Regions from separate parts of the Homo sapiens genome. Here regions 2 and 3 are each linked to region 1. The links come from fine-mapping of genetic effects on gene expression. A gene starts in region 1. Each other region holds a variant in brackets. All regions are shown on one strand. Distances are between the middles of the regions. Region 1 holds the start of FAM184B (family with sequence similarity 184 member B). Region 2 overlaps FAM184B (family with sequence similarity 184 member B). Region 3 overlaps FAM184B (family with sequence similarity 184 member B).

Evidence for each region.
Region 2: its variant is fine-mapped to the expression of FAM184B in putamen (GTEx, PIP 0.98).
Region 3: its variant is fine-mapped to the expression of FAM184B in ovary (GTEx, PIP 0.92).

The regions. Positions count from the first base shown.
Region 1 is chr4:17,779,945-17,782,705 of GRCh38, reverse strand. FAM184B (family with sequence similarity 184 member B) reads left to right here and starts at 1,085. Exons shown (of 18, transcript NM_015688.2): 1 at 1,085-1,547. The coding sequence starts at 1,407.
Region 2 is chr4:17,634,157-17,636,917 of GRCh38, reverse strand. It overlaps FAM184B (family with sequence similarity 184 member B), which reads left to right. Exons shown (of 18, transcript NM_015688.2): 15 at 273-390; 16 at 1,805-1,909. Among named protein-coding and RNA genes, the nearest start is that of MED28, 21 kb to the right of the region's middle. RefSeq lists a silencer at 41-130. The variant G/C (reference allele first, on the strand shown) is at 1,331.
Region 3 is chr4:17,642,247-17,645,007 of GRCh38, reverse strand. All of the region lies in intron 12 of FAM184B (family with sequence similarity 184 member B), which reads left to right. Among named protein-coding and RNA genes, the nearest start is that of MED28, 29 kb to the right of the region's middle. The variant C/T (reference allele first, on the strand shown) is at 1,395.

The DNA.
Region 1 (2,761 bases):
TGGTACAAATTTTCTGGGTCAATTTTCCTCATCGACAAAAATGGGTTTTGTTACCTTCAGTATGGATGGGTGGAACTGTGGTTTCTGAGACCCTTTGAAGCTTGCTTGGTTTATGAAGATTATTAAAATTTCTGATAAAAGGCAATGTATAAATGATATACATTCACTATGCAAACTATCATGAAGACCTATTATTCGAGCTTTAGGAAAAGCTGATCACGGTGCTGTCACTTTCCCTTAAAGTCCACTGTCTGAAACCAGAGAACACGCCAGAAAGAAATTTGGCCCGCTAACCTCTCCCCTCACCAAACACTAAACAGACACCAGCTCAGAATCCGAAAACTTGACAGTCTGGCTCCAGTCTGCCCAAGGCCAGTAGTGTGGATTTGGACGACTCACTTTACTTTCAATGGGCTCGGTTTGCTAAGATTTTCAGTTCCATCTTTTACTCATCTAACTGCTCCATTCCTCTTTGCTTCTTCCTTTCCCGCACCTGCCACCATCCTTTCTACCTCCCTAACGACTTTGTCTTTGCGTTCCTACCGCTTCCCGCATTACCCGTTTCGCACTTTCTCATCTCAGATTTCGGTCACCCGCACCCTGCCATCCCCTTGGCTTCTCCTCTTTGGGCATCTCCGGTATTCCTCCCGCAATGTCCTGGCTCCTCTCCAAGATCCAAAAAGGAAGGCTACCATCCCCAGCCCCGCTGTGCACTCGCGCAACTCAGGCGCTGGCCCACACCGTGCGCCCCGGATCCCACACCTCCTTGAGTCCCGATGGCTCGCCCTCACCTACCCGCCCCTCTCTTAGCATCTCGTCCCCCACCGCCATCTCCGCTATCAGCTCGGAGACTCGGGAGCCGCCAGTCACTGTGCCCTGTCCCTCTCCGGAGGCCGCCAGTCACTGTGCCCTGTCCCTCTCCGGAGGCTCTTCTTCCTCTTTAGCCTGGGATCCCCACCTCGGGCAGGGTCCGTCGCCACCAAGTCCAGGGCCGCGCGCCACCCACGTGTCCAAGAGCGCAGTGCCCGCCCACCGCAAACCCCCCAAGGCCGGCAGCTCCTAGCCGCGGAAGCTCTCCCCTTGCACACGAAACCTGCACTGGCTGGGGAACTGCAGACTGATCGCCAGCGGCACGTGCGGGGCGCCGACGCCTCGCCGCAGGGTGCGGGTGCCCGCGGAGCCAGCCAGCCAGAGAACCAGCAGGAGAGGAAAAAGGGTGGGCGCGCGGGTGGGCCCGGGAGGCGGAGACCTTCGGGAAGCTGGGGCCACGCGGCGGTGCAGGCGACGGGACTGCAGTGCCACCTCTCCCGAGAAACCCACACGCTCGCACGCCCGCGCGCGCACGCACGTGCACACGGTGGGCAGGGAGAAAACGAGAGAGTCTGAGTGCTGGGCGCGTTTTAGCGATGGCTTCTGCTCTCAACAGCAAAATTAACCCGCCCGGCACTTGCCAGGGCTCCAAAGCCGACGGTGGCGCCGGCTGGAGAATGGACTGTGATCCCCAGATGCACGTGAAAATGTGCAAGAAGATCGCCCAGCTCACCAAGGTAAGGTGGGGCGCAGCGGGCCAGCGAGCTGCACGCCCGGGGCGCCCGAGCCGGGAGTCAGTGCGGATGCGCCTCCCGGGAGGCCCGGGCCAAATCCAGACAGAAACTTTGTCTCGGAGGCCAACCGGGAAGGGAAGCGGTCCTAAATCTGGGTGACTTGACCTTCTAGAGGCACCATCCTAAAGCAGCAGAGAAAGAGGATCCTTGCCAAGGAAACTCCCACAGCCTGCTGGCTGGGCAGGTGGTCTGTGCTTTTCCAAGGTGGGAATGTGAATCGTGTGTGTGTGTGTGTCCCCGCCAGCTTTGCTCAAGTGCCTAGAATGTTGTGATTTCATTCAACTGCCATACTTTACAGCTGGGGAGGTCATGTGGGCTCTATTTAAACACTTGATCCATTTATTCCTTCATTCAACAAATATTTGCGTCATTTGTTGAGTGCCAGCAGCTTGCGTGGCACCGTACTAAACCTGGAATGCAGCCTAGGGGACTTACTATCAAACTGGGTGCAGACGTGTGTAGGAGCATAAATGGGGAAGAGCACGATTCACCAAATAACTATGGGATTAGGAAGGACCTAGGGAAGTCAGCCAGCCCACCTCCTTACCTCGTGCAGGGGGCTCTGATTGAACCTTCCCAGACTATGTCTTTTTCAAGAAGACCAGCAAAAAGATGCCACCAGTGCTCTTTGTTAACCCTCTGCAGCTCCCCAATTAGAAGCTCCTTGTCACAGACTCCCCTCTGTGCCTTGTCTAGATGGAAAACAACATCCCTCACTGTCTCCTATACAAGGTTTCAAGTGGATGAATTTAGCTGTTTGCCTTGGGGTTTCCTTTCGGTCTCATAATAAACTCCTGGTGCCATGCCCGCCAGGGAGAGGTCAGGTCCAGGTCTGTCCTGTAGCGTCTGGAACATGCTCTCTTTCCTCACCATCTCCCTCTCACTTCCCACACATTTTTTTGTGGGATCACAGACATTCCCCTCCCCCTGTCCCGCCAACCTCACTATTTTGCCAGGAGGAATAGAGCACAGGGGCTTGGAATTGAACACTAGCCGCCTTCTCCCACCTGTCTCATTAACTTCACATTCTTTGCACGTGAGCCTGTCTCCAAACAGGGCTCTCTTTGGTCAAGGAATGAAAAAAGAGACTGGAGATAGCCCTTAGCGTTCTTGACATGTATAGCTGGTACTATTGATCTAACCTACATTCATGTAAA
Region 2 (2,761 bases), 150 kb after region 1:
TCCCTGGCTCTTGAAGCCCCGCTGAGTGCAGCATCTATGTGCACACAGGGGCCTTTGCTTCCTGGCCCTGCAGCCTCAGGGGACCTGACAGAGCTGGAATCCTGGGTTCGGCAAGCCATCTCCCCAGGGGGCCCTGGGCAAGCCGCTGCTGCTATCTGGGCCTCCCTGGCCGGGCTGAACACAGGATGGCATTCCCATCGTGTGCACTTGTTCTCCCTCTTTGTTGAGTAATTGCTGTAAGGGGGACTTGACTGCATGCCTGCTTGGAACAGACTGAAAGATTCCGGAGAGAAGCCAGGGAAGGGAGCGTCCAGGCCCGAGGACCTTCAGCTCATTGGCCGCCTGCAGACCCGCCTGAAGGAGAGAGAGGACATCATCAAGCAGCTCACGGTGAGGCTGTCAGGGGGCGCCTCACCCACGCACCTGGCCGGGCACTGCGGGCTCCCCCGGGAGGGGCGTTCACTTGCACCCAGCATTTCTCTAGGTGCCCTAATATCTTACAAAGAATCCTTTCTTGCCGTGCGCGGTGGCTCAAGCCTGTAATCCCAGCACTTTGGGAGGCGGAGGCGGGTGGATCACTTGAGGTCAGGAGTTCGGGACCAGCCTAGCCATGTTGAAACCCTGTCTCTACTAAAAATACAAAAATTAGCTGGGTGTGGTTGTGGGCATCTGTAATTCCAGCTTCTAGGAAGGCTGAGGCAGGAGAATCACTTGAACCCGAGAGACAGAGGTTGCAGTGAGCCAGCATAGCGCCACTGCACTCCAGTCTGGGCGACAGAGCAAGACTGTCTCAAAGAAAAACTCCTTTCTTTTCTATTATTAAAGAAGACATACTCACTAAAAAATTAATACAGGAAAATAGGAGGCAAAAAAAAATCACTTTACTCCCAAGTCCAACAGCATTTGCCCCATGTTAATATTGGTTTTTTAACTTACAGAATTTGAGAAAATCTATAATGGCTTAGGTTTGAATTGTAGTAGAATTAGTGTTTTTATTGTTGATCTTCTTTTTGTAAAAATGACCACCTGTTTTCTACTTAGCAAAGCCACTCCCTAAGCCCCTTGGAAAGAACCCAGCTCCCTCTGATTCAGTATCCAACCAAGGCCTGCTGGTCATTTCTGCTCCTGCTCACCTGCCTCACTTCTGTATCTCTCTGTGCTTTGAAAATTAGGTGACATTGATATGGAATTATTGCTCATTTGCTACGTGTGAACAAAGGTATCATGGGTTTTTTTTTTTTTAAAGTAATCCTTATTTCTAAGAAATACATACTGATGTTTTTACAGAGAAAAATTATGTAATAACTGGAATTTAGTAATAATACAGCAG[G/C]AGAGAAAAAAGTGGAAAATGATACACACAAACAAGATCGGCCATATAGTTATTATAGGTAAAGTGGGGATGGATTTCATTACTCTCCCTATGTTTGTATATGTTAGGCAACACAAATGTCAAACAAGACAGAGGAAGAAAGGCGGCAAAATCCTTTGCATACCTGGGGGTTTTCTTTCTTTGCCTTAATTACTAACTTTCTGCATTAGGTTACCTTCACATGCTAAGAACAGTTGAATTTTCAATTTCCTAAGGCATCAGCTTGCCCTTTTCTTTACAAGAGGGGCTGGGGACATAAAAAAAGCAAAGGTGCTTCCTCAAAAGCTTCAGTGCCTGGCAGCTTTATTCCCACTGACTTCCCCTTCCTCCCCTGGACTTTCCTTCTCTATTCTGCCCTCACAGCCATCTTCCTTCAAGTCAAACCCAGTGCTGTGTGGTTAGGCTCATTTAGACTCAGTTGTATTGGTTTTCTAGGAAGAGAGAAGATTTCACTACGCAGCATTCCCCAGTGCCATGTCCCACCGGAATCGGTCTTTCTCTTTCAATCCTCACCCGGGATATTTGACCCCTTCCATGAAGGTAAATTGGTTCTAATGGTTTTAATGCATTATACAATTCCATTGGTTTCGTTTTTCTTAAAGGTAACCACAGGTTATTTAAGGGCTGGTGTACGCTCAGAAAAATATTCATTGGAAAAAAAAAACCCACTTGTTTATATCTATGGCTGGGCGGATTATGTGTGATTTTTATTTTTTATGGGATTTTGTATTTTCCAAATTTTCTAGAATAAATGTGTGTCAGTATTAAGAATAGCTCTATCTAGGTGATGGGAGGGAGAAGAGTAAGAATCTTCCACTTCTTAACTATTTCTGTACATATTTTTGGAATTTTTCACAATGAGCATATTCACATTCAATTATCTACTATCACAAAATCCTAAAGGCTCTTAAAAAATAGTATTTTTGGCTGGGTGCAATGGCTCACACCTGTAATCCCAGCACTTTGGGAGGCCGAGGTGGGTGGATCACTTGAGGTCAGGATTTCAAGACCAGCCTGGCCAACGTGGTGAAACTCCAACTCTATTAAAAATACAAAAATTAGCTGGGCTTGGTGGCAGATGCCTGTAATCCCAGCTACTCAGGAGGCCGAGGTAGGAGAATCACTTGAACCCAGGAGGCGGAGGTTGCAGTGAGCTGAGATCGCACCACCGTACTCCAGCTTGGGTGACAGAGCAAGGCTACATCTTAAAAACAAAAATAGTATTTTTAAAAATAGTTCACAGGACAATACACTTGTGACTTAACTAATGTCATCTCGTGTAGTTTTTATGTATCCCTCATTGTGACAAAATACAAGTTTCACTCCAGAAATTTAAATAAATGCATTTGAGGCTAGGGTGGGCCCATCCCCTGCTGGGGGTGTTACATGACC
Region 3 (2,761 bases), 140 kb after region 1:
GTATTTTATTCTCTTTGAAGCAATTGTGAATGGGAGTTCACTCATGATTTGGCTCTCTGTTTGTCTGTTATTGGTGTATAAGAATGCTTGTGATTTTTGCACATTGATTTTGTATCCTGAGACTTTGCTGAAGTTGCTTATCAGCTTAAGGAGGTTTTGGGCTGAGACAATGGGGTTTTCTAGATATACAATCATGTCGTCTGCAAACAGGGACAATTTGACTTCCTCTTTTCCTAATTGAATACCCCTTCTTTCTCCTGCCTGATTACCGTGGCCAGAACTTCCAACACTATGTTGAATAGGAGTGGTGAGAGAGGGCATCCCTATCTTGTCCCAGTTTTCAAAGGGAATGCTTCCAGTTTTTGCCCATTCAGTATATGATATTGGCTGTGGGTTTGTCATAAATAGCTCTTATTATTTTGAGATACATCTCATCAATACCTAATTTATTGAGAGTTTTTAGCATGAAGGGCTGTTGAATTTTGTCAAAGGCCTTTTCTGCATCTATTGAGATAATCATGTGGTTTTTGTCGTTGGTTCTGTTTATATGCTGGATTATGTTTATTGATTTGTGTATATTGAACCAGCCTTGCATCCCAGGGATGAAGCCCACTTGATCATGGTGGATAAGCTTTTTGATGTGCTGCTGGATTTGGTTTGCCAGTCTTTTATTGAGGATTTTTACATCAATGTTCATCAGGGATATTGGTCTAAAGTTCTCTTTTTTTGTTGTGTCTCTGCCAGGCTTTGGTATTAGGATGACCAGCATCACTTTTCATAAAGCCTTTGGTGGTTCCCATTGGAGAAAGCTCCAAATGCTTCAACTTGGCATTGAAAAGCTTCCACCACTGATTATGACCTGTATGTCCTGCCATATTCCCTGCGGCTCATAAACCCGGCATCTGCACCCTCCCTTTGGCCTTCGCCTGTGCCACTCCTCCTGCCTGAGATGCTGCCCAGCATATCTCATGCTGGGGGCCTTCCCTGGCACACAGTGGCCCCCTCTGGCTCTGAGATCCTGGAGCACTTGTTGTCAAGACAGCTCAGCTGGCTCTAGGATCTACCGCCCGGTCCTGTTGGGGACATGCCATTTCATAGATGTCCTTGTTGCCTAGACTGGATCAGGAGTCTTTTGAGGATAACCTGTCTGCCTGCCTCATCGCCTCCCCACCCCCACTCCCAGCCCTCAGCAGGGTCTCCACCAGTGCCTGTGGGTGGTGAGGATTCATTGGTGGCCAGTCCTGCTGAAGGACCGGGGGACATGGGAATCATGTGTGCCAGATTTAGCTGTTGCTGAGCATAGGAAGGCAATTTCTGTGTTTATGTGAAAAATATTAACAAATGATGAATCACAGGTTAGCCCAGTGGTTAGGTCTAGCAGAGGGAAGACAGAA[C/T]GTGTTCCATTAAGTGTTTAGATGGGTGGGAGCCACTGGTACCAATGGGAGGGGACGGGAAATGTGGGATGGAGACAGCTGGGGACTGGGCCATGGAGGGAGTCAGTGTTCACCTGAGGGCTCTGGATAGAAGCCAAGGAGCACTGAGTACATGAGCCGATACGTGGCCACCCATGCACCAGCCCTCACCTTTGCCCCATAGGAGGGAAGCCCTGAACCCTCTAGAAGGAAAGTGTGGTCTCAGGTGATACCCCACACAGAGAGGAGATGCAGGGGTGTCGGCAAAGAGGAACAGCCCAGGCAGCAGGAGTCAAAAAGGAAAGGGGAGGGGACACAATGCCAGGCTGCAGGCCCAAGCTGGCCACCGCTGAGCTAAGTGGAGTCTGTCCTACTGGGATCTAATTCTCATATCTCTCCCACCCAGAGACCCAAGAGGGGAATGCATTTTTCCATCTGTTTCTGTCCTCCATTGGTCAAGGATTGTCCCCACAGAGCAGTAACCCCCCTGCTCTTGCTCTTCCAGGCTATGCATGTGAGAGTGCCAAGTGGGTGCCCACGGGCATCCCACATCATGCCAACCCCAGAGCAGGAAGGCAGAGACATGGGGCCTGGGCCACAGATTCTCCCCGTGCACAGCTGTGCAATTACTGTGTGCAGTGAACTAATACATGCACAAGTGGTCGGGCATGTTTGAGTGAATTTGAAAACTGGAACATTCACTAATCACAGATTAAATCTGACTCCATTTGCTGTTGGACAGCAATTTTTGTGTTTCTACCTGAACTACAGACATTCTAGCACAATTCTGTTTAGCAAGCATTCACGTGGCACCTATAGAATACACCAGGCTAGGTGCTACAGGGTTGGAAAGATGAAGAGAGGAATAGCTCCCAATCTAGCCAAGGAAACCAGCATGGACACATATTCTCTTCAGTGTCACCCCTTACAGAGCCAGAGTTAGCAAGATTTGGTGGTATTAGAGAAAGCTTATCAGTTCCCCCTGAGAGGTAGGGAAGACTTCACTGAGGCAGTATCACTTCACTGAACACTTAACTTCACGGAGGGAAGACTTCACTGAGGCAGGCATGGAGGGCACCCTGGCAGGTGGAGTGTGGAGTGTGGTTGGTGTTCATTTGGATGCAAGACCCATTCTTAGCTCAGCAGTTTTATTAAACTCTAAGGGCCAGATTTGGCCAACTCCCAAAGGAGGAAATTTTTTAAGAGACTAGATGGGAGTCCCTGCAGGGAACTCAGGAGCCTGCCACAGGCTCCAGCCTGGGCGGGGTGCCAGTGGGTCTCCATCTCGCCGCAGCACATCTCTGGCCCTTTCTGCCTTGTCTGCCCCTGCGCCTCCTGAAAACACCTCT